Linked DNA regions of Homo sapiens. The protein of the gene in region 2 purifies or fractionates together with the protein of the main gene of each other region. This does not show direct contact. Each region holds a gene or a part of one and is shown on either strand. Other genes may lie near its edges. The genes, in order: KATNIP, IFT27, SDF4, IFT80, CLUAP1, CHP1 and IFT172.

The links.
Region 1: the proteins of IFT27 (region 2) and KATNIP purify together in Homo sapiens (tandem affinity purification; one large-scale study listed by IntAct). This does not show direct contact.
Region 3: the proteins of IFT27 (region 2) and SDF4 purify together in Homo sapiens (co-immunoprecipitation; one large-scale study listed by IntAct). This does not show direct contact.
Region 4: the proteins of IFT27 (region 2) and IFT80 purify together in Homo sapiens (affinity purification with mass spectrometry; 2 studies listed by BioGRID and IntAct, with this or other methods). This does not show direct contact.
Region 5: the proteins of IFT27 (region 2) and CLUAP1 purify together in Homo sapiens (affinity purification with mass spectrometry; 3 studies listed by BioGRID and IntAct, with this or other methods). This does not show direct contact.
Region 6: the proteins of IFT27 (region 2) and CHP1 purify together in Homo sapiens (co-immunoprecipitation; one large-scale study listed by IntAct). This does not show direct contact.
Region 7: the proteins of IFT27 (region 2) and IFT172 purify together in Homo sapiens (affinity purification with mass spectrometry; 2 studies listed by BioGRID and IntAct, with this or other methods). This does not show direct contact.

Annotation. Positions count from the first base shown.
Region 1 is NC_000016.10:27,748,783-27,753,034, reverse strand, and holds part of KATNIP (katanin-interacting protein), read right to left. Parts: intron 3,452-4,252; coding exon 2,729-3,451; intron 1,317-2,728; coding exon 1,111-1,316; intron 1-1,110. UniProt on the Homo sapiens protein: May influence the stability of microtubules (MT), possibly through interaction with the MT-severing katanin complex.
Region 2 is NC_000022.11:36,758,605-36,762,856, reverse strand, and holds part of IFT27 (intraflagellar transport protein 27 homolog), read left to right. Parts: intron 1-4,252. UniProt on the Homo sapiens protein: Small GTPase-like component of the intraflagellar transport (IFT) complex B that promotes the exit of the BBSome complex from cilia via its interaction with ARL6. Not involved in entry of the BBSome complex into cilium. Prevents aggregation of GTP-free ARL6.
Region 3 is NC_000001.11:1,225,502-1,229,753, forward strand, and holds part of SDF4 (45 kDa calcium-binding protein isoform 2 precursor), read right to left. Parts: intron 3,446-4,252; 5' UTR 3,293-3,445; coding exon of another isoform or gene 3,272-3,292; coding exon 2,967-3,271; intron 1-2,966. UniProt on the Homo sapiens protein: May regulate calcium-dependent activities in the endoplasmic reticulum lumen or post-ER compartment. Isoform 5 may be involved in the exocytosis of zymogens by pancreatic acini.
Region 4 is NC_000003.12:160,389,226-160,392,725, reverse strand, and holds part of IFT80 (intraflagellar transport protein 80 homolog), read left to right. Parts: intron 1-3,500.
Region 5 is NC_000016.10:3,517,594-3,521,845, reverse strand, and holds part of CLUAP1 (clusterin-associated protein 1), read right to left. Parts: intron 1,944-4,252; coding exon 1,810-1,943; intron 1-1,809. UniProt on the Homo sapiens protein: Required for cilia biogenesis. Appears to function within the multiple intraflagellar transport complex B (IFT-B). Key regulator of hedgehog signaling.
Region 6 is NC_000015.10:41,276,015-41,279,826, reverse strand, and holds part of CHP1 (calcineurin B homologous protein 1), read right to left. Parts: intron 1,061-3,812; coding exon 938-1,060; intron 492-937; coding exon 438-491; 3' UTR 1-437. UniProt on the Homo sapiens protein: Calcium-binding protein involved in different processes such as regulation of vesicular trafficking, plasma membrane Na(+)/H(+) exchanger and gene transcription. Involved in the constitutive exocytic membrane traffic.
Region 7 is NC_000002.12:27,447,775-27,452,026, forward strand, and holds part of IFT172 (intraflagellar transport protein 172 homolog), read right to left. Parts: intron 2,323-4,252; coding exon 2,224-2,322; intron 2,027-2,223; coding exon 1,917-2,026; intron 1,789-1,916; coding exon 1,725-1,788; intron 1,607-1,724; coding exon 1,520-1,606; intron 1,258-1,519; coding exon 1,141-1,257; intron 149-1,140; coding exon 38-148; intron 1-37. UniProt on the Homo sapiens protein: Required for the maintenance and formation of cilia. Plays an indirect role in hedgehog (Hh) signaling, cilia being required for all activity of the hedgehog pathway.

The DNA.
Region 1 (4,252 bases), on a different chromosome or scaffold from region 2:
CCACACGACATGTTGCTGTCCTGCCTCAGTCATGACCTTCCCACAGCCCAGCCCCATCCCTTGTGGCTTGTGTTGTCCCCATTTCTCCCCTACCCTGTTTAACCATCTCCTCTTTTTCCTATTGGTCCTGACTTGAATTGACCTTGAAGGTCATCTTTCATTTTAAAAGATTTGTTTATCTGGCTAAGTGTGGCGGCTCTTGCCTGTAATCCCAGCACTTTGGGAGGCCAAGGTGGGAGAAGCGCTTGAGTCCAGGAGTTCATGACCAACCTGGGCAACATAGCAAGACCACATCTCTACAAAAAATAAAAAAAAAACTAGCCAGGCATGGTGGCATGCACTGTAGTCTCAGCTACTCAGGAGGCTGAGGTGGTAGGATTGCTTGAGCCCCGGGAGTTTGAGCTGCAATGAGCTATGATCACGCTAGTGTACTCCAGCCTGGGCGACAGTGCCAGGCCCTATCTCTAAACAAAATAAAAAAATAATAAGTTGCTTACCAATTAAAAGCATAAACTGTGGAATCACGCATTCAAGTTCTACCCTTGTTTCTCTGTCACAATGTGCCCTTGGGCAAGTCACTTGACTTCTCTGAGCATCAGTTTCCGAAATGGCAATGTTAATAGTCTCTACTCAGAGGGTTGTCATGAGGGTGAAACAAGAACACTGTGTACCCTGCTTGGATCATGATATGTGTTCATGAAACCATGGCTGTGATGATCATTATTTTAACTGTAACTCTGCCTATGAAAAGCATTCCTAGTCCTTCCATCAAAAACAACAGTGAATGATCAAAACGCAACCCCAAGCAAAAACTCCCCCCAGACTGCCAACCTCTGAATTGCAGAGATGACACAGAGCTCATTTCTCCTGGCTTTGATTAGAATTTGAATACTTTCTTTACTTCGGTTAAAAAAAAATAAAAAAATAAAAATAATTAGAGAATGAAATATGACATAGAGGACAAAAAAACAAAGTAGAAAGATGGGAAATGTCAACACAGTGGCACCAGCAGCTTAAAGGATATCCATCTTAATTCTCCCTGCTCTACTCTGAGTTAGGGGAAGAAACCTATCTGGGGGTCCCCCCACAGCCCCCCAGCTCCAGTCCTACCCGTTCATCAGCCCCCAAGCCAGCCTGGGTGAAGGGCCGCTCATCCCCCTCGCCGTCGGCCGTGCTGGGCCTCCTCATTGCCTCTTCATCCTGCAGGCTGTCCAGGCTCCCCACATCCAGGTCAAACATCTCATCAGAATAGAATATGGCCTCGAGAATGTCATCATCGGTTGTGAATAAGATCGTGTCTCCAAAGTGCTCTGGGGCTAATGGGTTATCAAGATGACAGAAAGGTCAACTCACTTCACATCCCAGAGATTTGTAGATCAAGAGCCTAAACCCATCCACTTCTGTGCTGTACAACCCCACACCCTTAACTGGTATTGATTAGTGTGAGCCTTATTAGTCTTCACAGATTTGCAAATGGAATGCACGGACCATAAGCATCACATGGATCTAAGGAAGGGATCTAATTTCATGAGAATCACTGTGATATGTCATCAGGCAAGTGACATTTCTTTGGGGTGGGCAAGGCACTATGCAAGACGCTGTTGGTACCCCACCCAGATCTTGGTGGATCCTTTTCTCAGAGTGCCTTGCCTGGAAGGGTGTGGGAGTTACAGCTCCAACCCGGCAAGCCTTGGTTCCAATGACTGCCTGGTAGGTGGGGTTCTAACGCCCTGCTCCTTCACCTTCAGGCAGGAAAGACCTGAAATTTATGTTCCAGACCTCCCTCAAGATCTGGTTGTGGCTGGGCTTCCTGGAAACTATATCCTTGCTTCACTATGCCAGGTTTCTCCTAGGAGCACTCCCTCCATAAGTCACTTGCCAAAGAATGCCCCATCTCAGACTCAGGTTCTAGGGGCCGGACCAAGACAGGTGCTTTATGGGAGATGCTGAATGAGGTCAGGCCTAGCACACTCATGCTGTAAGAGGGGATGAGTGGACCGGGTCTGTGGCTGGGTGCAGGGGCTCATGCCTGTAATCCTAGCACTTTGGGAGGCCAAGGTGGGTGGATCACTTGAGCCCAGGAGTTCGAGACCAGCCTGGGTAACATGGTGAAACCTCGTCTCTACAAAAAATACAAAAATTAGCCAGGTGGGTTGGTGCACCTGTAGTCCCAGCTACTTAGGAGGCTGATGTGGGAGGATTGCTTGAGCCCAGGAGGTCGAAGCTGCAGTGAGCCGAAACCATGCCACTGTGCAGGGCAAGATCCTGTCTCCCCACCCAAAAAAAAAAAAAAAAAAAAAAAGGGCTGGGCGCGGTGGCTCACGCCTGTAATTCCAACACTTTGGGAGGCCGAGACGGGCAGATCATGAGGTCAGGAGATCGAGACCATCCTGGCTAACATGGTGAAACCCTGTCTCTACTAAAAAAAAAAAAAAAAAATACAAAAAATTAGCCGGGCGTGTTGGCGGGTGCCTGTAGTCCCAGCTACTCGTGAGGCTGAGGCAGGAGAATGGCGTGAACCCGGGAGGCGGATCTTGCAGTGAGCCAAGATCGCGCCACTGCACTCCAGCCTGGGGGACAGAGCAAGACTCCGTCTCAAAAAAAAAAAAAAAAAAGAAAGAGAAAGGACTGATCTGTTGTTGGCTAGCCAGCTGGTCTGTTTTTTCCCATAGACTCTCAGCAAGTCACAGATAGGGGCTCTGAGAAAATTCTTACAGACACGCCATACCTCCCGCCAGGGTTCCAGAGGCCTTGGCGATTTCTCCTTCAAAGATGCACTGGGTGTCTAACAGCATTGTGATGTCCTTCACGCCTCGGAAGGAATGTATCCGAGATTTATTGTAGTTCCAAATTCTGATCAGGGCAACGTGGCAAGGGTGCGTGAAGTCAATGGTGATGGAGTGGGATCTGCCCCGCGTGAAGGGGGCCAGCCAGACATGCATGTCATCCTGGGTCCTGTTCACCCCGTCGATGAGGTTGGTGACCACGCGGGGGTCTTTCCCATAGGCTGGTAAAATATTGATATCGGGAGGGTCTGCTTTTATGTTTGAAATCTGCACCGGTTCACCCTTGGAACTGAATATTTCTATTCCGTTGAGGCCGACATAGTGTCTGTCCCCCCAGGTAGACTTGATGTCAATGACCAAGCGCTGTCCATAAGGCAAGACGGGGATTTTAAAGTCACCCCCAGCGTCTGTCTCTCCAGAGTAGCCATCCTGCCCTCTCGACAGCCCTGGCTGCTCCCCCTTCTTGGAGGGGGGCAAGTCGCTGTGCCGGCTGCTCTTTTGCTGCAGGAGCTCATCCAGGATGTCCCCCGGGAGCTCCGTGTTGGAGATGCGTCCCCGGTGGGAGCGGTCGAAGGCACTGAGGGAGCTCCATGACTCGTGAAGTGTGTGCTCCTGCTCACTGCGCCACCTTGACCGTGACGGCGTCCTGGAAGACCAGGTGTCTTCTGGAAGAAAGGACACAAGAGGGGGGAAGCCCTGTGAGTGGCATGTGTGGAAGTGGGGACCATTAGAGACTGTCTCCTGTGGTGGCTCTCAGTGAGGCAGGGCCACCTCCAGGGGAGCCCTCTAGAAACCAGCGGGGTTGTTCCCGGCTGTCTCCTTAGCCAAGAGGCCTCTTGGCACTGGATGGCTGGGGCCAGGCATGTTACCATCCTGCACTGCATGGGGGCCCTGGCACAGAGCTTGGTCTCCTGTCCCACACAGCTTCTGACTGTCCTGTGGGCCATTCAGGTCGGTAAAATAATTGTCTATGATCACCCAATTCCAGAATCTGGTTGTTTTTGCAAAAACACAAAGCATTTTTTCATAGACTGAATTTTCTAAGAATGCAATCATCGTGTGAACCAAGGGAAGACTACTTGGCTGTGTTAGAAACTTTGCCAGGAGTCGCTCCCCACTGTAGAAACTCACATGACCAGGGGCAATGCTGCTGCCTGAGGCGTCTGAGTCAGCCACAAGAGGGTGTGTGCTGGAGACTGTCACAGTCACGTGACTCTAACGGTGTTTTCAAAGACAATTTAATGGCAGGTGGAAGGTTTGTAAAAGAACGTTAAAAGGAAAAAGCCAGATACGCAGCTTTAAATGCAGCATATCCTGGTACGGGTGACATGCACCCGTGTTAACAGTGTTGTTCCTGGTTTCTGGGTGGGGAGCAGGAAGGACTTTTATTTTCTTCTTTGTAGCTTGATTTTTTTAAATTCCCTTCATGCATTACTTTTATTTTCTTTCTTTTTAATTTTTTTTAG
Region 2 (4,252 bases):
CTGGCAGCGGTCTTGCACATGACCTCACGTGCAGGGAGCTGTTATTCCACCATATGCAGAGTCTCATTTGGAACTGATGTTTACATTCTTACCCGAGATCTCTTCTCAGTATAGCAGTAGCTGCTCAGACATAACAGGAAAGCAGATCAGCCAGCCAACCCTGGGAAAAGGTGTATCTCAACTAGTAAGAAATACAAGTGCTTTGTGTGCGGTGATCATGACCCTCGACGTTTGCATGCAATATTCTGGGTTCAGATGTTGTTGGAACATTGTTTCATGTGGCTCTCACAACCAGTCCTGTGAACCAGAAGTTGGCCCCACAGCTCCCATTCCAGTGTTGAGGAGCTCAAGTGACTTGTCCAAGGTCCCATGATTAGCGAAGGGTGGAGCCAGGATTAGGACTCATGGCCTCTAATTCCCATCGGTACCACCCATCCTCACCTTGCTGCAGCCCCAGGGTGACTCCAGGCCACAAAGTGCCTGCCAGTTAAAAGAGCAGAAGACCTCATTACAAAAAGCAAGTGATTTTCAGCGTCTTCAGTACACTTTTCCTGGCAAAAACTGCAATTACTTTTGCACCAACCTAATGTATCATGATTTTAGCTGTCCAGCACTGAGGAACCTGCTTCCTGTGTTTGGGAGTTTTAAAGTCCCATCCTCCTTGAGGCCAAGATGCAGCCATGTGACCCAGGCTGCACCAATCAGACCCCTCACATGAGACTCCACTAGGAAGGGCATGAAGTGATGATCTGCCCTCTAGGAACAGGTGTGGCCCTGAACATCCATCTCAGAGCCAGCAGGGGCCCGAGTGTTGGTTGCCCTGCCCCTCGCCAGGGTTGCTAGCTGGGGAGATCACCAGGCCTGGCACAGTCATGGTCGTAACTTGGACCTCACCTTGTGGCCTTTAGACCTGATTCTGTGGCCCTCAGAATTGAGTCATGGGCTGGTTAATGTTCTGGAGGTCATCTTCTGCTCCAGCTTGACTTTGGCTCTAGGCACTTCTGCTATTGCATCTAGGAACCTTGACCAGTGCTGCCGTCCGAGCTTATAAAACTCCCCCAAAGCAGCATGCTTCCTTAGGGAAAGTACAGCAGTAAAGGCAGGCACTCTGACCTCCCATGGTGAGTGGCAGAACTCGCCGTGGGAACCTGGACATGTTATTTCACCTGTTGGTGGCTCAGGCTTGTAAAGTGAGGATCATAAAATACATCCCTTATCGAGTAATAAATATGAGAATCAAGTAATATGTCGCATATAAAACATGGATCACAGAGTCTGGCGCCTGGTAAACACTCAGTAGATGTTAGCTTTCTTAAAGTATAAATATTACCCCTAGAATCTTGTTTATACTGTTATTACTTACTAAATCCTTGTATTCATGGCTTGTGCAGAGATAAATATCACCCTTGCCTCTGGTCCAATTATCACAAATGCTAAATTAATGAAGCCCAAATCAGCTTTTCCTGTATAGAGGGTTTGCCATCTTTTCTGCAGCACACCTTTGTGCAAAGCAGTAGGCGGTAGTGCCCTAGCAAACAGGATTTCAGTATTCTCCCTTCCTCCATTCATTTGTGAAATTGTCCCTGCACCCCAATATTCCATATTCCCTAGAACGCTTGATAGAACTCAGAAATTAAAACCCACCCCAACCTCCAAAACAGGAGTCACCAAAGGCCAGTGGGCTACGGGTTAAACTCTGTTGAGGTGTTGAAGTGGGTGGGTGGGTGTGAACTACTCTTGAAGAGGCTGCAGTAAGCACTTGCTATTATCTGTGCAAGTTAACTAGTCCCCCCTGAGTTGAGGCTCACAGAAGCACCGCTGGCAGCTCGGTTAAGAAAGCTGTAATTAAAAAGGAAATATAAGCAAACGCAGCTTGAGACGCAGCCAAGGGCTGGCGCCAAGCTCATCTCCTCCTCTCTTCTGCCTAAACACCGCAGTGACCATCCTGCCTACCCAAAGGAGGTCCCTACAAACAAGTGCAAGAACAATCCGCGCTGATCACTGCCCTCCCAGGCAAGCGAGGAGTGGGGAAGTAACGTTTGATGAGGGCCTACTGTGTGCTAGGTGTTTTGCACACATTATTTGTTTAGGCTTCATAACAGCCCTACAAGGTAACACTCCTGTGTTGTATAGATGACAGACTCAGAAAGGTTGTGTAGCTTGCCCTGGTTGCATAGTTAAACGAGGGCTAGAAACAGGACTAGGAGTCAGGCCTGTCCAGCTGGAAAACTTGGGTTTTCTAGAAGGGGTACCCTGGCCTCCTGCGGAGCCTGCTGTGGGACTCTGCAGAACACAATTCAAGGCCAGACTGAACACTAGCCTGAACCTGCCCTGAGAATCCCTCTAAGCCGACCTACTCCACAGCTGTCCTGACTGTGTAAGCGAGATGATGATTAGTGATCAGACGAAAGGATTCCTGTCATTGGTAACCCTCTCAAAGTATTTGGAAAACAGTTCAATTTTCATCTATTTCAGAAGCACGCCGTGGTGTCTATTGAGGCTCACCTGCATTGAATTCCTTCCTTTTTATGTTGCGATCTCCCAAGATTGCATTGTGGAGTGTTTTCGAATCCATTTTGAAATCCCCGTGCGTGCGCTATGCAGGCCTCAGTCTTTTTCCATTCCATTCTTAACTCTACTTTCGACGGAAGCAGTGTTTTACCCCGACACTGGCTTGCCTAGGACCTTGTGCTCTGCACAACTAGCAGGGCCCGGCAGGATGTACTGAATTCTTGCTCTCGTGTCCAGCTGGACGGTGATGGCTTTCAAGTCCTTGGCTGTTGGGAGCTTACTATAAATGTTCGTCTTGGCTACAAACTCTCCACTCTTTCCTCGGCACTCTCTCAGCATTGCCACCACTGTCTTTCCTCTTGGCCAACTGTTTTCTTTACTTAGGCTTTCCCTTGCTAGAAAGTCCAGGTAACTTTCTCCACGGGACCTGGTTTCCTTCGCACATCCCAGCTGGCCTCGAGGAAAGGTAGCTCTTCCCAAATCAGAGAATCTGGATGCTGGGCTGGGCTCTGCACCAACCAGCTGGGCCGCTTCACCCGCTGGGCCCCAAACTACTCATCTGTGAAGCGAAGGCACCGCGCTTGATGCCTTCTGCAACGTTCTTCAGTTTGGAAATCCTTCTGTTTCGTTGGGGATATTTCACGGCCTCTTCTCAAGGTTGCACTTTTGCCAGCTGCCAGGGATCGTCTCAAAACAGGTTCTTAGTGCATTCATAGCTTGAGCTGCTGTCTTGAAAGTAGTACATTCCTTTTTCTGCCAACTTTTTTCTGAGAAAGTTTTTGAATGCACACGTGCACCCAACAGAGTGAGAGTGGCTGTTAAGAGAGAGGGCGCCATTTCCTTTGCCCTCCAGCCTGTCCCTGTGCACCCTGGAGGGGCCCGTTTTTTCCACCGCTTAGATAAAATCTAGGGCAAGTTCCTGAACTTCTCTTTTCTCTCTCAGGTAACAAAAATTCTTTTGGGCTCCTTTAGTCACAAAGATATTCACGATTTCAGGTATTAAAGTGCCCAGCCCTGGGTGATTGTCAAAATTCTGAACTTGATTTAAAGTGGCACCTCCTCTCACAGTCTTCGGGAGGGAGAGACCGGAGCCAGGAGTGCAGCGTGTTTGCTGGGGTCTGTCGTGGCCCACTCCACACCTGCTGGGTGGATCCGGCTGGTGCCCCATGGGCGCCTCTGAGATGCCCCTCCCCACCCCATCAGTGGCGCTGTCTCACCTGCAGGCTGCTTCTCACAGGTGGTCCCCCCTCACTCCTCCTGCAGCCCCAGTTCCTGGCTGTTCATTCTTATTGGGACCCGTCACCCTCCTGGAGGCGGTCCCAGCCGAGCCCCCTTAAGACAGCACCAGGCTGGCTCCACTTGGCCCCCGCTGGTTCAGGGAAGTGCTGCTGCAGCCGTTTAGTTTGACAAAGGAGGCAGCGAGGCCGTCTCATTGGTAGCCCTCTCCTGGCTTGCCCAGCCACCACCTCACCTCGATTCCTCCCAGGCCTGGGTCCAGCACCAGCCTAGGAAGAGGGTGCCCCATGCTGTCTAGCTCTTCTTCGGGATGGGGGGCTCCAGGTTCCTTGGTATTTTGCTTTGGCCTTTGGAGCCTCAGTCAAAACTGAGGAAAGGTGTCATTTTCACATCTCGTCACACGTACAGTGACTGCAACTAAAAGCACAGGCTTTGTAGAAACAGACATGGGTTCAGGCCCCAGCTCCACCATTCACAAGGTGTGTGGCTTCCTGCAAGGTACCTT
Region 3 (4,252 bases), on a different chromosome or scaffold from region 2:
ACGCGCCCCTCCCTCAGCAGCCGCAGCAGCCCAGAGGTGGACGGGCCTGGGAGGCACCCTCAGCTCCACAGTCCCCAAAACACACCGGCTGGGGACGGGGCCACCCGGGTGGCCATGTGGCAGGTGGGGCACCTGGTGGGTCTCACGTGGACACGTGCATCCTCGAATGCTCCGGTCACGCTCCACACGCGCCACAGACACAGGCCACACGCTCCACACGCCACAGACACGGGCCACACACTCCACATGCCACAGACACGGGCCACACACTCCACACGCTCTACACACTCCACAGACACAGACACACACGAGGCAGAGCAAAAAGCAAAAAGGTGGAAAGAAACCACATGGCGCAGGATTCCAGTCAAGATGTCGGCAAGGAGTCACTCATCCAAACTCAGGTGCCTGAAGACACGGCTGCAGGGCGGTGCACGTACATGGAGCTGGCACGCACACACGCAAGTGCACAGGCCGGTACCCACGTGTACACAGCACACACACGTGAACAGGGCTGGCAGAACACAGATGTGACTGGGCTGGTGCACACACGCATGTTATCAAGTTCTGGCTCCTGAGAGAACAAGGGCAAGACGCCCAGTGCCCAGACCCTGGCTTCCAGCTCCAGCCACGGGAGACAGGGCTTCCTGGAAAGGCGGCAGCTATTGCACTGGGGCAGGTGGCACGGAGGCGAGCCCAGAGCATCTCACCGTGCCAGGAAGCGGGAAGGAAAGCCTGGAGCATCTCGTGGTGCAGGGAAGCGGGAAGGAAGTGAAGCTCAAAAGCCCCTAGGACAGGGCACCTCCCCTCTGGATGCTCTTTCCAGAAACCCTCAACCCTGTACGGTCAGGAGGAAACATGGCACCTCCCCTCTGGGGGCTCTTTCCAGAAACCCTCAACCCTGTACGGTCAGGAGAAAACACATCCCACAAGCCCAAACTGAGGGACAGCCTAAAACCTCCTACCCAGCCCTTCTCAGAACTGTTACGTCCTCACAAAAACGGGAGAGTCTGAGACACCGTTCCAGCCCAGAGGAGACAGAGGAGACAGGACAGCTGAGTGAACGTGGGTCCTGGAGGGACGGGGCCCTACGCAGGAGAAGGGCGAGAAGGGACCCGCGTGTGGGAAGGGAAGTCTAAACACCCACAGCGGCCGCTGTCGCCGCTCGGCGCAGGAGTCAGGGAGACCCGGAGACCTGCTGTTACTTCCCACTCCCCATGCCCACCTCCTCAAACGAGACAGCTTGGGGTTTCGTTACAGGCACCAAAAAGAAACCCCGGTCCAGCTGGAGACGCACCGAGCAGAAGCCTCAACTCCCCTCGCCCAGGCGTGCAGCCCACCCCCAGCACCGGCTGAGCAGGGACGGGGACCCTTCCCCTGTGATGCCGCGAGCCAGGCCTTCGTGAGCTCAGGGGTGGTGAACCTGACAGGCCCCAGGGGCACCAGCAGCCTCTTCGTGGGTTGGTCAGCTCACCACCAAGTGAACTCAGGCCACGCAAGGACCCCCGAACCGTACCATCTGAGGAGAGGTGCAAGGGGACACCACACCTGGTGCCCAGGTCCTCCAGCTGGCACCGTGCCTCCGTCCCACCAGCTCACCTGTGCTCCGCCCGAAAGCCTGGATCCTCAGGGCCCTCCCGCCTGGCCCTCAGCCCAAGGGCCGTGGCACAGCCAGACCAGTCCTCACACCTTTCCTACCTGCTCCTGCACCCCAGGACCCCAGCCCTGCCCAATCCCCTTGCTCACCAGCTTTGCCACCTGCCCCTCTGCACTGGTCCTGGAGCACCAGGCCCGGCGGGAAGGCGAGCTCGTGGCCAGGCCCTGCGGGAAGGCGAGCTCGTGGCCAGGCCCGGCGGGAAGGCGAGCTCGTGGCCAGGCCCGGCGGGAAGGCGAGCTCGTGGCCAGGCCCGGCGGGAAGGCGAGCTCGTGGCCAGGCCCTGCGGGAAGGCGAGCTCGTGGCCAGGCCCTGCGGGAAGGTGAGCTCGTGGCCAGGCCCTGCGGCGGGGGCTGCCTCCTTGTGCCCAGGTCTCGCAGGTCCCAGGAGGCCCAGGGTGTTCTCTCACCTGCACCTCGGCTCCCTGCCCGGCACCCTGGCTGGCCTGGGGGACTCACGGGCACGCCCTGACCCTGCTCTGCCTCCAGGGGTGAGGCCAGCGCTGAGTGCAAGTAGGTTCCAGGGCCACACCGCAGGGCACCCCGGCCGTGCCGTAAGGAGTAAGGCGCCCGTGCAGGACCTGGCTCCTTGTGGGTGAGTGGTCAGGTTGACCCATCTTGGACCCCTCACAACAGGCTCTCGAGACTCAGGGATGGGGTCGGGGGAGAAAGCTCGGCACTAGGCACAGAGGCAGCAAGAGGGTCTCGGGACTCAGCAGGGTGGGGGCAGTGACGGCCAAGGATGGGCCACTGACAGCACAGCTCTGCTCCCGACCAGGCCAGCAAAACAAGCCAACCCCACACACCCCCAGCCTGCGTGTGATACGCGGCCCGTGTGTGACAGGGACCCCAAACACACAGGGTAGAGGGCGTGTCAGGAGGAGCCCAGAGCACCCTGTACCAGCTCTCCAGCCACCTGTGGCAGCCCCTCACTCCTCAGCCAGGCCTCGTCCAACTGGGGCTGCAGCCTGCGGAGGCTGCCCGTGGCCGGCGTCTGCCCCTCAGCATGGAGGACGCTGACCACTGCAGTGCCGCGTGGGCTCCTCCAGGCTGTCCTAGGGACGGCCACACAGGCCCACTCTGGCCCTCTGAGCCCCCGGCGGACCCAGGGCATTCAAGGAGCGGCTCTGGGCTGCCAGCGCAGGCCTCCGCGCAAACACAGCAGGCTGGAAGTGGCGCTCATCACCGGCACGTCTTCCCAGCCCGGCAGGTCCCGACACAGGGCCCGGCGCCCCCCACCGCGCAAAGCCAGGATAGGAACACACAGGCGAGCGCACGCGGACAGCCCCCCAGTCTGGGCACATGGCGGCACCTACTTGGAAAAGATGACCATCAGCTTCCTCCGGCTCCGCCGCGGCTCCGCGTCCTCATCAAAGCCACCCAGGTCCTTGCCTAGGAAGACCTCCTGGTGGAAGCCGCGATTGAGGTGCCCGTCCATCTCCAGCTTCACCCCGTTCAGGTGGTCTGGGGGCAGGATCTCATTCTCCTCCCTGTTGGCTACTCTCTCTCGAGTGGACGAGTGGTTGGCAGGCCGTGCAGACGCGTCCATCAGAAGGACTGCCCCCAGGAGCCAGAGGCAGCACGGAGCCAGGCCAATGAGGGGACCCCACCTGGACGCCATCGCCACCCAGGGCCAGACCATGGGGCGGGCTGCAGGGTGTGGGCCAGGTGCTGGGAGGGGCAGGGGCAGGGGCAGAGGAGGAAGTGAGGTCCTGGCTCCAATCCAATCCCCGGGCACCACGGAGGGCTCTGTGTCCCCAGGACGGCCGCAGGATGGGGACAAGCAGCTCACAGTCTGCAGAGAGACACAGACACATCATTAGCAAGACTCAGCAAAGACTTCCCCAAGCACGTCTATCCTGCAACATGAAACATATCCTCGATTCACAGGATCCAGACATGTGGCATCGCCTTCTCCAGACCACACGTGGCACTGCCTTCTCCAGACCACACGTGGCATTGTTTTCTCCGGGCCACACGTGGCATTTGTTTTCTCTGGACCACACGTGGCATTTGTTTTCTCCGGACCACACGTGGTGTTTTTTTCTTTATTTTTAGAAACAGGGTCTTGCTCTGTCACCCAGGCTGGAGTACAGCGGTGACCACAGCTCACCGTGACCACGAACTCCTGGGCTCAGGTGATGCTCTGGGCTCAGGTGATGCTCTCGCCTCAGCCACCGGAGCAGCTGCGACCACAGGCGTGCACCCCCACGCCCAGTAATTTATTTTTATTTTACTCTTTGTAGAGACGGGTCTCGCTGTATTGCTCAGGCTGGTCTCAAACTCCTGGCTTCAAGCGATCCTCTTGCCTCAGTCTCCCAACGTGCTGGGATTACAGGCGTGAGCCACTGTGCCCGGTCTTTTTTTTACAGACACTGAGTTTTCAGCCCTGTCTCTCCGTCTTTCCATCTCTCTCTCGAGCTGTCAGCACCTCCAGGGGCTAACCTGTCCCCATCGCCCAACACCTGCAGCACAGCTTTCCTGTGGGGCCCGGCTCTGTCCCTCCTGGCATCATGCCACTGACCCATGGGGTTAGGGTCACTCTCCAGACCCTGACTTGAACATTCTTGAGATCTATGACCTTAGCTAAGTCATGTGGCCT
Region 4 (3,500 bases), on a different chromosome or scaffold from region 2:
GAGGCTAATTAGGAAGCTGCTGTAGTAATTCTGGTTAAGAGAAGATGGCATCTTGGATTGCGGTCATAGTGGAGGCGGTGAAATATTTTACATTTTGAAGATAAAGCCAACAAATGTTTTTATTTACAAGTTGGATTTGGTATGTGAGAGAAGAGTAAATGATGACTTAAGTTTTTGGTGTTTGTAACTGGAAGAATGGAATTGCCATTTACCAAGATGGGTAAGAATGTGGTAGGAGCAAAGTTGAAGGGAAAATCACGGTTTTGATTTGGATCTTGTTAAATTTGAAATGTCTGTTAGACATTCAAATAGAGTTGTCAAATAGATATAAAAGTGTGGGGTTCAGTGGAGAGGTATGAACCAGAAATATGAAATTAGTAGTTGTCACTATATGGTGAATATATTTACATTCATATTAAGCTATAAAACTGGATGAGTTCACCATGGCAGTGAGTGCAGATACAGAAGAGGCACAAGGACTGAGCCTACCATTTAAGGCTGGGGATATTAGGAGAAAGTAACATTTGGTTATTCCCTCTAATTCTCTGTAGTTCCTTTCCCTCCTTAAACTGCTAGTGAAGTAAATGCCAACACCCTTATCAAGATTGAAAAGAAATCCCACATAGTTCCATATGCTGCTAGAGGACTGCCCCTTTTTCCCTTATGAAAGTCTGTATCAATGCTGCCTAAGAGAGCAGTTCCAAGAAGGCTATGGTTTAAATTGATTAGCCACCTTTTCTCAAGAGACATTTGGGACTACTGTGTCATACCTTACATCCCTGTTTACCTCAGTCTCCACATTCAAGATAATTCCCTGCATTAGTTTGTTATTAGGATTAGCTGTTGATGACAGTAATTTAAATACGATGCAACTATTCTCTATCACTTAAAACTTTGATGGTACAGGATTGATGTGACTTTCCACAAGGTCAGAAATCTTGGCTCTTTTTTATCTTGCTGTGTTATACATGGCCTTGATGGCATGGCATGGGGAGTGTCACTCTTCCGAGTTTTTATTTGCCAATTATGCTGTGATTTTATATAACTTTTTTTTTGAGACAGAGTCTCTCTTTGTTGCCCAGGCTGGAGTGCAGTGGTGTGATCTCGGTTTACTGCAACCTCCACCTCCTGAGTTCCAGCGATTCTCCTGCCTCAGCCTCCTGAGTAGCTGGGATTACAGGTGTGTGCCACCACCCCGGCTAATTTTTTGTATTTTTAGTAGAGACGGGGTTTCATTGTGTTAGCTAGGATGGTCTCGATCTCCTGACCTTGTGATCCACCTGCCTCGGCCCCCCAAAGTGCTGGGATTACAGGCGTGAGCCACTGTGCCGGGCAATTTTATGTAACGTTTATAAGAAGTAATGAAATGGGTTCCTTAGATAACTCACTGTGAAATTAGGCAATGTGAACTTAGGTACGTACTATTACTGTTGGGCAGTATATCTGATGCAGGGCAGGCAAGCTCCAAAACTGGGGGTTAGCCCAGGAGTGTTCTTGGGATGGCCCAAGAAAGAATTCAAGGGCAAGCTGGTGGTGTTATACAGCAACTTTTATTGAAGCAGCAGTGTATAGCAGCAGCAGAGGTACTGTTCCTTGCGGAGCAGGGCTACCCCATAGGTAGTGTGCCCAGAGGAGCAGCTCATAGGCACTTCTGCAGTCATATTTGTGCCCACTTTTAGCTATATGCAAATTAAGAAGTGGGCTATGCAGAAATTTCTAGAAAAACAGGTAACTTCCTGGTGTTACCATGGCAATAGTAAACTGATATGGCATACTGATAGGCATTTCTTACAGAGAGGTGCTTTCACCTCTTCTGTGTTTTAGCCAGTCCCCAATCTGGTCCCGTGTCTGAGCTCTGCCTCCGGAGTTGAGTCCTGCCTCTTACCTCATTTCTACCCCTCACAGAATATAAAATCCAGATTGGGCCAGTAGGTTGATGATATTATAATAGCCACTGTTGGTTTCAGTATTATTAATGCCTTGTGTGGCCACACCTAGTTTCAAGGGCAGCTAGGAAACATAGTCTTTGTTCTAGGTGGCCAGATGTATAGCAAAACTTCAAATTCATACCACAGAAGCAGGGATGAATGGATATTGCAGGATAGCCAGCTGTTTCTACCATCTCCAACCATCTATCTTAAACCATTAGTTCTTCACCATCTAAGTTTTTTTGGAACTCACTGTGTGTCATTAGCCAAATCAGTCCTCCACTTTTATTCTGAATGATCCCTTTACTCTCAAAGTCTAACTTAAATCTGGTTGTTTCCTAAGGAAACTGCTTTTCTTTTCTTTTTCTTTTTTTTTTTTTGAGACGGAATTTCACTCTTGTTGCCCAGGCTGGAGTGCAATGGTGCGATCTCGGCTTACTGCAACCTCTGCCTCCCGGGTTCAAGCGATTCTCCTGCCTCAGCTTCCTGAGTAGCAGGGATTATAGGCATGCACCACCATGCCCAGCTAATTTTTTATTTTTAGTAGAGACAGGGTTTCTGCATGTTTGTCAGACTGGTCTCAAACTCCCGACCTCAGCTGATCCGCCCGCCTCGGCCTCCCAAAGTGCTGGGATTACAGGCATGAGCCACCATGCCTGTCCCTGGAAACTGCTTTTCTTATAGATCTCTCAAGTAGAAGCTATTTTGCCTCCCAAACTCCCATATGTCAGAGTTTTATCTCTCGTTACTGTATCTGGACAGTTGATTCTGTTTCTCCTTCCTGTCTAAAATCTCCTGGTCCCTTTGAAACAAGTCCAGGATGTGGAGAAATAGGAACACTTTTACACTGTTGGTGGGACTGTAAACTAGTTCAACCCTTGTGGAAGTCAGTGTGGCGATTCCTCAGGGATCTAGAACTAGAAATACCATTTGACCCAGCCATCCCATTAGTGGGTATATACCCAAAGGACTATAAATCATGCTGCTATAAAGACACATGCACACGTATGTTTATTGTAGCACTATTCACTATAGCAAAGACTTGGAACCAACCCAAATGTCCAACAATGATAGACTGGATTAAGAAAATGTGGCACATATACACCGTGGAATACTATGCAGCCATAAAAAATGATGAGTTCATGTCCTTTGTAGGGACATGGATGAAATTGGAAATCATCATTCTCAGTAAACTATCGGAAGAACAAAAAACCAAACACCGCATATTCTCACTCATAGGTGGGAATTGAACAATGAGAACACATGGACACAGGAAGGGGAACATCACACTCTGGGGACTGTTGTGGGGTGGGGGGAGGGGGGAGGGATATCTTTAGGAGATATACCTAATGCTAAATGACGAGTTAATGGGTGCAGCACACCAGCATGGCACATGTATACATATGTAACTAACCTGCACATTGTGCACATGTACCCTAAAACTTAAAGTATAATAATAATAAAAAATTGAAAATCATTTTTTAAGGATGATTTCAATCACCATTTTTCTATATAAATCTAAGTAGATGACTGAAAATCATTATGAGATCTATTTAGAAAAAGGGTAATTAT
Region 5 (4,252 bases), on a different chromosome or scaffold from region 2:
TGAGTTCAAGCGATCTGCCCGCCTTGGCCTCTCAAAGTGCTGGGATTATAGACGTGAATCACTGTGCCCAGTCTAAAGAGGTTTTTAAACGATAAAAAATTTTTTAAAAAGGCCAGGCGTGATGATGACTCATGCCTGTAATCCCAGCACTTTGGGAGGCCAAGGCAGGTGGATCACAAGGTCAGGAGTTCAAGACCAGCCTGGCCAACATGGTGAAACTCCGTCTCTACTAAAAATACAAAAATTAGCTGGGCGTGGTGGCGGCCGCCTGTAATCCCAGCTACTTGAGAGGCTGAGGCAGGAGAATCGCTTGAATCCGGGAGGCAGAGTTTGCAGTGAGCCGGGATCGCGCCATTGCACTCCAGCCTCGGCAACAAGAGCGAAACTCCAACTCAAAAAAAAAAAACAAAAACAAAAAAAACCATAAAAATCTATACTGGTTTGCTGAACTTTTTCTTTTTTCTTATTATTGACCTTAAAGGGAAAATTCTACTCTTTTAAAAATATAAGCAGATAAACTCAGAAATAATTATAATCTTTTGAACTAGAGCAAAACAAAGAGACTTTTCTGTTAAAATGATTTGGAGCTTAACAAAAATGAATTGATGCTTTAAAAGTGGAATGTGTCAAGGAGATCAATCTATATGGCGGCAATGACTTCTGTTTTTTTTTTTTTCCCTCTCTGAGGCTCCAGAGGTAAAGAGCCAGTTTCAGGAGGGGAAGGGCCTTGGCCTTGCGCTGGGCAGGGAGGAGCCAGGGCGCTCCCTGTGGTTGCTGTCGCTGCCTCCAGGTGCTGCCTCCCCACAGACCTCGGGACAGTGGGCAGGGTGTAGCCAGCCACCAACATCCAAAAAGGCAAAACATCCGAGCAGAGTAGGCAGCTGGGAAGAGGAGGGAGCCAAGAAGAAAGAAAAATAAAGGGTGAATGAAAAGGGAGAAAGAGCAGAAGCATGGGGGAGGGAAAGAGGCACAGAACGAGGAAGAGAAGAGAGAGAGAGCCGGCACCACTATTCTCCATCGGTATTCCTGGGAAATATATTTCCAATGAGGTAACGTAGGAAGAAAGATGAATTACTGACTGGTGAGGAATGATCAAGGTTTAAATAAAGTCTAAAATCTATGCCAACAAACAGGCAGGAGTATGTTTCTGTTTCTACCTAATTTATGGCAAGATCTTAGGAGACCACGTCTGGATTTCCCCGTCTGGATTCACTTACTCTGCCTTGAGTTCCAAGAAGCTATAAAAGCTTAAAGGGCAGTTCAAGCTTTAAGCAGTTTTCCAGACATACCGCAAGCAGTAAAGAGAATGAGTTTAGCCATCTGCTTGTTATGACAGGCAACACATGTACATTTGAGGTGAAGATACCCTTATGTAAGGCTTTTTTTCATTGCTTGAGAAGAGTTAAGATCACATTCTATTCTCTTAAGTCTTTGTTCTAACTTTTTTTTTCTTTTAGAGTCAGGGCCTTGTTCTGTTACTCGGCCTTGTTCTGTGGCTCAGGCTGGAGTGCAGTGATGCAACCATAGCTCACTGCAGCCTCAACCTCCTGGGCTCAAGCAATCCTCCCGCCTCAGCCTCCCAAGTAGCTGGGACTACAGGTGTGTATCACCATACTGAGGTAATTTTTAAAAATTTTTAGAGATGGGGTTTCATTATGCTGCCCAGGCTGGTCTCAAACTCCTGGGCTCAAGAGAACCCCCCGCCCCAGCTTCATGAGTAGCTGAGATTTCAGACATGAGCCACCACGCCCAGTTTGTTTGAACTTTCCAGGACATCTTTCTACTCATTCTCCAAGTGTTCATATCTACCTGACACTCTGCAGAGTCTCTAGTCGCTTCCGATTTCTTTCCAGTTCTAATTTTCTCTTTTCGATTTTGGCTTCTAAATTAGCTTCATCAGAGGCCACATTATTGAGCAGGTCTTTAGTCTTCTGAACCTGTGTCTATATTTAATGGGAAATAATGAGACAAGGTGGCAATAAAAACAGCCATCCTAATTCTTAGAAGAATTTTGCAACTCTTCAGGCATAGCAACATTATGCTCAACAAACACAAAAGCAAACAAATAGACACTTCCCCAAGCAATGACTCACTTAACCCACTAGTTCCAGGGAGAATGTCACACAGGTCCAGAAAAAGGTATCTCTTTTTTTTTCCCCATGAAAAGCAGGCATTTCTACCCAGGGAAAGAAGTGAAGATGCAAAGAAGAGTGTCCTGGTCAAGGTGGAGAGGCCTGCAGTCTTTTCTCTGGCTCACTCGGTTAGAACAAGGTGCACATCACTCTGGACGGTCAGTCTGCCTTTTTATCATTCGGGCCATGCCCCTAGTTACAAACACCCGACTTACAGAATACCCACACACACCAAGTACTGCTCTACTAGGAGGGGAGAGAAAGAAACAGCTGGTCCCAGCCCTAACCCACTGCCTGCTGGGATTGAGAGAAGGTCCTCTTCCCTCTCCCTGGCAACAGAAGCTTGACTACAGACTAAAAACGAGGAGAAACCACTCTGAAGACAGTACGAAAGCAGTTCCCACAGTGGCAATGGCCACACTGGTGTGCACCAGCTCTGGAAGGGGTCCAGGGCAACAGTTGGACAGAGGCCCTTGGGCAACAGAGGCTGAGTAAAGAAGGGAAGGGGGACACGGGCCCACTGACGGTGACACAAGTCTCCCTATCCTAAGAGAAGGTTCATTTGAAGCAGGTAGAGTCACTGGTAGTGCGCCGTCTTCACATGCGTCTTGTCCGGTGGCTGGCTGGATCACATGCCTGGGGTTCAGGCTCCAATCTCTTTATGAGGAATCTGGACTGCCACCCAGCTGAGCGTGGAACTGCCCCCCAGGGTTCTGGCTTTCCAGCCCTGCATTAAGTTCCTGGTGGCCAAGGTGGGGCTTCCCCTCCAGCTCTTTGCCTATGTGTAGCATCCCACGAAGGGGTTACTCTGTTTTCCTGCAAGTCTCTGAAAAGCTATGGGCTCCACAGAGAAATGGCCTACGAAGCCCAGACACTCTCCACAACTCTCAGGCATGGTGTGTTTTGGAACCAGCCACTGTTACTGACAATGCGTTTATGGTCTAATTTTTTTGGTCTAAGTACACTAGCCACTTCTAAGATACTTTCATGAAAATAATCAGACCCTTATCATCGATTTGCTGCAAGTGCCTTAGAGCCCCCAGGAGAAATGCGAGTTCACCCTCACAGGAAGAAAGGTGGGTCTCCTTTCTAAACAACTTCAGTTAATGGCAACTGTTTCCTCGAACCAAAGTCAGATTAAAACCTAGTAAATTTATCCCACCTTAAACATATCTGTTCCTCAAACAAGAAAGATCCACAATGCAAAACAGCTGTGTAAACACAAGCAATTTTCCCTGGTTTCTGAAATAAATGGCCTGTACTCCCCAAACCCTTTTAAGTACCCATGTTGTTTTGGTTGTTTTTAGAATGATCAAACATCACAGATATTTTCTAACAATGAAAGGAGTCTTAAGAGATGTCTACCAAGAAATGAACCCTGTCCTCTCTTGGGTGTTCTACTTTTAACATATTAGTGCTAAGGGCACATTCATGCCGTGTTCACCTGATTCAGTTAGAACACTGGCAAGGATAAGAGGTATAATAATTTTTTTTTAATTTTTAAATTTAGAAACAATCAAAAATTTACGGAAAACCTGTTGTACAACACAAAGCGTTTTTCCCAACCTAGGTGACAGTAAGTTGCTGACCAGACGTTCCAATACCCTGAATACTTTAGCGTGTATTTCCTACAAATAAGGACTTTCTCCTACATCCCCACAATACAATCATCAAAACAGGAAGCCAGCACTAACACACTACCACCGTCTAACTCCAGCCCCACTCCACTGTCCCCACTTGTCCCAGTGAAGTCCCCAACAGCAGATAGGAGCTGCCTATGTGTCCAGTTATCACATCTCCACAGCCTCCCTCAGTCTGAAATGCCCCCTCAGCTTTCCTTGACTTTCAGAACCTTTTCACTCTGGGAGCATACAGGCTGGTTAATCTGTAGAATGCCCCTCAATCCGGCTTTGTCTCATTAGAGTCAGATATGCATCGTTGGCAGGAATACTCAGAAGTGACTGCATCCTACCAGGCGTGCATGATTTTGATTTGTTCTGTAACGATGATGTTCACTTTGATCTCTTGATTAAGGGGGTGACTGGCAGGCTTCTCCCTGAGAAGTGACTCTTTTCCCCTCTGTAATTAATAAGTACTCTGCGGGCCAGGCACAATGCCTC
Region 6 (3,812 bases), on a different chromosome or scaffold from region 2:
AGGGAAGTAGGAAGCAAAGAACATATAAAAAGGATGAAGAAGCATGCTGGCAGACTCGCTGGAGGGAAGGCAGCAGGGCTACAGTCTACATCTGGTGAAAGAGCTTTGCTGGCTTGTTCTTGGCATGATTGCCTCTCTCACTTTCTCAGACTGGATGGATGTGTGGCATTCAGCAGCAGAATGGGGAAGATGATATTTATAAATGAAGAACTAGTGAATGGATACTGAACAGAAATATATAGGGTGTACCATTCTGTAATGCCCTGTTTATACACCAAAGGCAGGTTTGTGTTGACAGAACATATTTGGGGTTGTCATGCAACAGCAGTAGTACTTTGGGAGAAGGGGAATGAGGGGGTGGAGGTGGAGTTGGTAGAAGGAGGACTTTCAAGTTCCAGTTCTTAAATACTAGACCGCAAGGAACAGTTTGGTCTCCTTTAGTGAAGAAATCGGATGCTCATTTTCTGTTCTACATCCACCTTCTCCAAAACCTGGGGGAGAAAACCAGTAACAGTTACAAAGGTTATGAAGATTACAACACTCCCAAGCTCTTATCTGAGTAATGTTTTCCCCCCTTCCTCCTGTGCAGTAAAACGTAACTTTTTTTTTTTTTTTTGGAGGCAGAGTCTCACTCTGTTGCCAGGCTGGAGTGCAGTGGTGTGGTCTCGGCTCACTGCAACCTTGGCCTCCTGGGTTCAAGCGATTCTCCTGCCTCAGCCTCCCAAGTAGCTGGGATTACAGGCACGCGCCACCACGCCTGGCTAATTTTTGTATTTTTAGTACAGATGAGGTTTCACCATGTTAGCCAGGCTGGTCTTGAACTCCTGACCTCGTGATCCGCCCACCTTGGCCTCCTAAAGTGCTGGGATTACAGGCGTAAGCCACCGCGCCCAGCCACTAAAACGTAACTTTTTCAAACAAGAAGTAAGTGACCAACCTTAACAAATTCTGTGAAAGATATGGCACTGTCCCCATCCTGATCAGCCTCCTGAATGGTCCTGTCTGCGATGCTGCCCAGCTGCTCATCTGAGATATTTACTCCGACCATCATGCGTAGCACCTGGAAGACCAAGAGCCAGGAATTACAAGGGCCTTGGGAATCAGAGGGACTCTTTACTAAGATTAAAAATAAAGCTATCACCATCCTCCTTTTCCTTTGATGCCCTCAAATACAGTCATGCACTGCATAATAATGTTTTGGTTAATGACCGACTGCATATATAATGGTGGTGCTATAAGATTATAATACTGTATTTTGATGAGAACACATAGACACAAAAAGGGGAACCACAGACACTGGGGCCTACCAGAGGGTGGAGTAGGAGGTGAGAGAGAAACAGAAAAAATAACTACTGGGTACTAGGCTTAGTACATGGGTGGCGAAATAATCTGTACATCAAACCCCCATGACAAGAGTTTACCTACATAACTAACCTGCATATGTAGCCCTGAACCTAAAAGTTAAATTTTTTTTCCTTTTTTTTTTTTTTTTTTGAGACGGAGTCTCACTCTGTTGCCCAGGCTGGAGGGCAGTGGCACGATCTCAGCTCACTGCAAGCTCTGCCTCCCGGGTTCACGCCGTTCTCCTGCCTCAGCCTCCTGCGTAGCTAGGATTACAGGCGCCTGCCACCGTGCCCGGCTAGGCTAATTTTTTGTATTTTTAGTAGAGATGGGGTTTCAGCATGTTAGACAGGATGGTCTCGATCTCCTGACCTCGTGATCCGCTCACCTCGGCCTCCCAAAGTGCTGGGATTACAGGCATGAGCCACTGCGCCCGGCCAAAAAATTTGTTAAAAAAGATTACAATACCATATTTTTACTGTACCTTTTCCATGTTTAGATGTAAGTATTTGTTTTTGGGTTTTTTTTTTGAGACAGGGTCTCGCTCTGTTGCCCAAGCTGGAGTGCTGGGTTGCGAATGTGGCTCACTGCAGCCTCACCTCCGAAGCTCAAGTGATCCTCTCACCTCAGCCTCCCCCAAGGAACTGGTACTACACTACAGGTGTGTGCAACCATGCCTTTTTTTTTTTTTTTTCCTGAGGCGGAGTTTCACTCTTGTTGCCCAGGCTGGAGTGCAATGGCACGATCTCGGCTCACTGCAACCTCTGCCTCCCCAGTTCAAGCGATTCCCCTGCCTCGGCCTCCCGAGTAGCTGGGATTACAGGGATGTGACACCACACCCAGCTAATTTTTGTATTTTTAGTAGAGATGGGGTTTCGCCATGTTGGCCAGGCTGGTCTCGAACTCCTGACCTCATGATCTGCCCGCCTCCGCCTCCCAAAGTGCTGAGATTACAAGTGTGAGCCACTGCGCCCAGCCACTTGGCTAATTTTTCAAAATTTTTTTGTAGGAATGAGGTCTCACTGTGTTGCCCAGGCAGGCCTTCAACTCCTGGGCTCAAGCAATTCTCCCTCTGCCACCTCCCAAAGTGCCGAGATTATAGGCGTGAGCCACCATGCCCAGCCACAGATATGTTTAGATACACAAATACTTACCATTATGTTACAACTGCATATAGTAGTCAGAACAGTAACTTGCTGCACGGGTTTGTAGTCTAGGAACAATAGGCCACACCACATAGCCTAGGTGTGTAGTAGGCTATACCATCTAGGTTCATGTAGGTACATTCTATGATGTTCCTACAACTACAAAATTGCCTAACATTGCATATCTCAGAATGTATCCCCATCTTTACCATCATGTGACTAAGTAACAGCTAAAAGGCTGAAACCTTTATCTTCTCATCTAGGCAATGATGTAAGCAGAACTTATCTAGGTGACTGGATAAGAAGACAAAGACTAAGGGAGAGTCCTTTGCATTTTGCCCTTCCTCATTCTTCTTACCTCATTCTGTCTGGTGGCACTGCAGCCACCCTGGAGCCATGAGGTGAGTAATATGAGCTATGGATGCCAGGGCAGGAACACAGAATAAGCCTGGTTCCTGGACATCAGTTAGGTACTGTACCAGCCTGGACAATCTATGCCAAACATTCTTGTTGCGTGAGCCTAACTAGTTCCTTATTGATTTAAATCAGTTTGGTGGGGCTTTCTGAAATCCCACCCAAAATGTCGTCCTCTTCGAAGTGCTGCATTAAGCCAACTATTCCTAAAGTATGGCCCAAGAAAACATAAAAATCCTTGAAGAGTTAAATGCTAAATCCCCTTCTGAGAAAAATAACAAGCACAATTAAAAGGCTGCGAGAATTGAGTAAGAGAATTTAACACTGTTTCACCAAATCTGTCTTAAACTTAACCAATCCTTGGGCCCCTGGGAATTCTATTAACACCTTTAGGGTGTGAACATACTTTGAAAATTGCTTCCTTAAACAAAATAAGCAACTTTAACAATTTGACTGTCAGGCAATATGGAAAGGCTGGTTCTTAGGCAATATGAAATGGGAGACAGGGTACCTTTCTGACTCCTTATATTATTATTGCAGTCAGCCACCTCTGTCTTCAGATGGCAAGAACTGAGCTTTTCCACAGAAAGGAAAGGGCCTCTAGCCCAGTGGCTCATAGACTTCCTTTCCTCCACTCCTTTACTCCCTTCTACAATCTCATGAAATAGATTCTTTTTTTTTTTTTTGAGATGGAGTCTCACTCTGTTGCCCAGGCTGGAATGCAATGGCACGATCTTGGCTTACTGCAACCTCTACCTCCCAGGTTCAGGCGATTCTCCTGCCTCAGCCTCTCGAGTAGCTGGGATTACAGGTGCCCAACAGCATGCCTGGCTAATTTTTGTATTTTTAGTAGAGACGGGATTTTGCCATGTTGGTCAGGCTGGTCTCGAACTCCCGACCTCAGGTGATCCG
Region 7 (4,252 bases), on a different chromosome or scaffold from region 2:
GACAAGGACAGACGGAGCAGCCCTTTCGCTTCCTCACCAGGTTGAAGAGGACATCTCGAAGATCAGCCCAGCTATGATAGGCCTCGGCACAGTTGGTTCCAGGAGAGCTCACCATGTCAGTGAAGATCCTTTTGTAGATATTGAAGTTCTAGAGGTAGAGGGAAGAAGGGGATCTGAGAAGGGCATAGCTAGAAGAGAAAGTCACTGGAAGTGGGGCCAAAGGGAGGAGAAACAGGCTTTGTGTGTAGAAATGGGTATGTGTGTGTGTGCAAGGGCTGGGGGACAGTGGCAGATTTTTATTTTTATTTATTTTTATTTTTTTAATTTTATTTATTTATTTTTGAGACAGAGTCTTGCTCTGTTGCCCAAGGCTGGAGTGCAGTAGCATGATCTCGGCTCACTGCAAGCTCTGCCTCCCAGGTTCATGCCATTCTCCTGCCTCAGCCTCCCGAGTAGCTGGGACTATAGGTGCCTGCCACCACGCCCAGCTAACTTTTTATATTTTTAGTAGAGACGGGGTTTCACCGTGTTAGCCACAATGGTCTCGATCTCCTGACCTCGTAATCCGCCTGCCTCGGCCTCCCAAAGTGTTGGGATTACAGGCGTGAGCCACTGCGCCCGGCCAACAGTGGCAGATTATTAAGTGCTGATTATTTTTAATGAAGTAAATTATTTTTAAGTGCTGATTATTTTTGATAAAGAGAAAAGAGGAAGAAATAACTTTCTTAGCTGGTGCTGTGTGAGTGTGGGCAACTGTACAAATGTAAATGCAGAGTCACAACATTGTGACTCAGATCAGGGAGCAGTGTTCATTCTCTGGAGGAAGTCAATAAAGGCCCTAGAGGTGTATGCAGGATTCATCTCTGAAAGACAGGTGCCTGTGTATTTGCTAACAGCATGGGGAGCTCCACGGGTGTTTCTTCAAACAGAAGTTGGAAGTTTCTGCAAACCTCCCCATGCTCTTAGCAAATACACAGCCTCCAGAGAGGCTGTACATTTCTGGAGATGCGTGGGGGGCTCTGGGCATGACGTTCTCTAAGGATAGAATCCTCTGAGAAGATAGTTCCTGAGAAGATAGGTGGTTCTAGAGGAGAAAGAGCTTTCTTGTGGAAACATTCAACCCAAGGAGAAGGCTGGTACCTGTGGGTTAGCAGGGGCTCCGTGCTGTACATACAGGGCCAATGCCTGGGCAGAGCTACCCTCCCGGATCAAGTGAGTTGCATACAAAGCCACATACTTGTGCAGAATCTTGTAGTTCTGTACAGGGGTGGAGGAAAAGCATGAGTGAGGCTGGGATCGGCAAGACCAAGCAGTGAGGTGACTTGAGGCCATGTATTTGTTGAGGGGAAAAAGGGTGTACGCAAACCTCTGACCCCAGTTTCAGACTGAGCTTCTCTGATGCCCATTAGAAATCTTTGGGCTTTGGGTTTTTGTGGAGGTAGAAGAGATGCATCTTTGAGGCAGGTGGGGAATCAAGGGAAAATGTAAAGAAAAACTGGGAATGGGAAGAGAGCAGTACCTGCTTGGTAGCTGTTTCAATGCACTTGTCCCACTGGCCCTGCTCCACATACAGGTCCAAAGCAGCTATCACATCCACACCCACCAGCTGGGTCAATGGAAGACAGAGTTACAAGAGAAAAGAGATGACATGAGGGAAAGAAGAGGGAGAGAGTCTTGTGAGTCTCTCCCTGCATTCTGCCTCCTGCTAACTCTCCAAGTCTCACCGAGTCCACTTTGCCCTGATTCTTGAGGAACTCTTTATAATGCTGGTCCACATAGTCTTCATACCTGTGAAGATGTTCAGAGAGCTCCATCTTCATGTTCCAGAATACCAACCCTCCCGGTAAGACTTTCTCCCAGTCTTTACAAAAGGAAGTAAAAGAGAATTTCGCAGTAAGAAGGGGTTACAAGCTTACCTGGGATCTAACTCCTTAGCTACACGCTTCGCCTTGTTCCACTCCTCACCCTCGATGAAAGCATCGATTGCTTCCTTGACAAGGTCCAGATTCAGATAGAGCTCTGCAGCCTGCACAGTGGGAAATCAGCGTGGAGACTTTCTCCTCGCTCCCAGTCTTCCCACTGTGAGCTCTCCCATCTGTTTCCCCAGGACTGCAAGCCATGCCCACCAGGAGGCCCACCTCACACACCTTCCTGGGTGTAGATGTCACCCTTGCACCCATCTCTGTGAAATCTATTTCTGTTCCATCTCAGCATCCTACTTACTGCACTGTGCTTTCCAATTCCAATCAGCTGGGGTCCTACAGCCAGAACGACTTCCATATTACGTTGGGGAGGCAGAAACTTGATGGAGAGTTCAGCTGCCTGAGTGGTTGAACAGAAGATGGAAATGGGTAGGAGAGACAAATACCGCTGAGTCCTCAGCCTCATCCATTTCATACATTTTTCTCCTCCAGATGCCAACTTTTTCTCTTACTCTCCCCTTCAACCTTGCACCCTCCTGGGCAAAACCTGGCTCATGGTCCATTAGATCCTTTGATTAGCCATCAGTGGACCTATCTTTCCTCTCAGTTCATTAACTCTTTCAGATACTTCCTGCGCTGCCTGAGGTCACTGCATTTGAAACTTCCGCCTTTGACAAAATCATTTTCAAGGTCTTTGTCATAAGTAAAATCTTCGTAGCAGAGTACAGAGAAAGGACTCCTAAAATAAGGAGTCCAGGGCATTCTGTAACTATTTGTGTTGGGCTTTTATGAACTTGTTTCTTCATTCACACACACTGGATTTTGAAGATTTAGTATAAAAAAAGAATGGAAAATATCTAAATAATGTGTGTGAGTACATGTTGAAATGGTAGTATTTTATTTAATTTTTTTAAGACAGAGTCTTGCTATGTCGCCCAGGCTGGAGTGCAGTGGCACAATATCAGCTCACTGCAACCTCTCCCTCCCAGGTTCAAGCAATTCTCTTGTCTTGGCCTCCTGAGTAGCTGGGATTACAGGCACCCACCACCATGCCCAGCTAATTTTTGTATTTTTAGTAGAGATGGGGTTTCACCATGTTGGCCAGGCTGGTCTCAAACTCCTGATCCTCAAGTGATCTGCCCACCGTGGCCTCCCAAAGTTCTGGGATTACAGGCATGTACCACTGCGCCCAGATGAAATGGTGTATTTTAGATATACTGTGTTAAATAAAATATATTACAATTATTTTTACCTGTTTTTTTTTTTTTTTACTCTTTTTAAATGTGGCTACTAGAAAATTTAAATGACATGTATGGCTTACATTTGTGGCCTGCATTATATTTCTAGTGCCAGTGCTGGTATAGATGGTCTTGATGATAACCTTTCAACACTTAAAACTCAGAAATTCTACAAACCCAAGTGTTCAATGAGATCACTCTGTTTCCATTATGATGCTGACATCCTTACCAGATTTCAATTTCCACACAATCCAATTTCACTGTAGTTTATGCTAATCCCCTCTGGTCTTTCCCTCACCTGTTCTTGCCTCCCTTTCTTACTGCCAAGCCCTTCAAAGCTTAATCTGCCCTGTCTGCATCAGGAAGCCATTTTCTGACTAATCTGAAAAAGGTACAGTCATGCCATGCTCCCAAGTTACATATATCAGATGCTTATTCAATACTGCTGATTAAAATCTGCTAGAACCTCAAAACCAATCATCAGCCCCTCTCTTTCTACTTCTCTCCCTCTAACTTCTAGGGGTTATTGAGTTTTAAGACCTCAAAAGGCCAGGCACGGTGGCTCACGCCTGTAATCCCAGCACTTTGGGAGGCCAAGGCTTGTGGATCATGAGGTCAGGAGATGGAGACCATCCTGGCTAACACGGTGAAACCCCGTCTCTACTAAAAAAATACAAAAAAATTAGCCCGGCATGATGGTGGGCACCTGTAGTCCCAGCTACTCAGGAGGCTGTGGCAGGAGAATGGCCTAAACCCAGGAGGCGGAGCTTGCAGTGAGCCGAGATTGCACCACTGCACTCCAGCCTGGGCGACAGAGCAAGACTCCGTCTCAAAAAACAAACAAACAAAATAAACAAACAAACAAAAAAACCTCAAAACCTAAGGGAAATTTTGCAGGGGCATCACCATACGAATATGTCATTTAGAGGGCCAATCTCACCCCCCTCATGACCCCCACTCACATTTCACTGTATCTAAGGTGCGTCATTTAAACTATACCTGCATCCCAATTTTAAATATATTAAAATATAATTATATATATGTATGTGTGTGTGTATATATATATATATATATGTTATTGTTAACTTTATG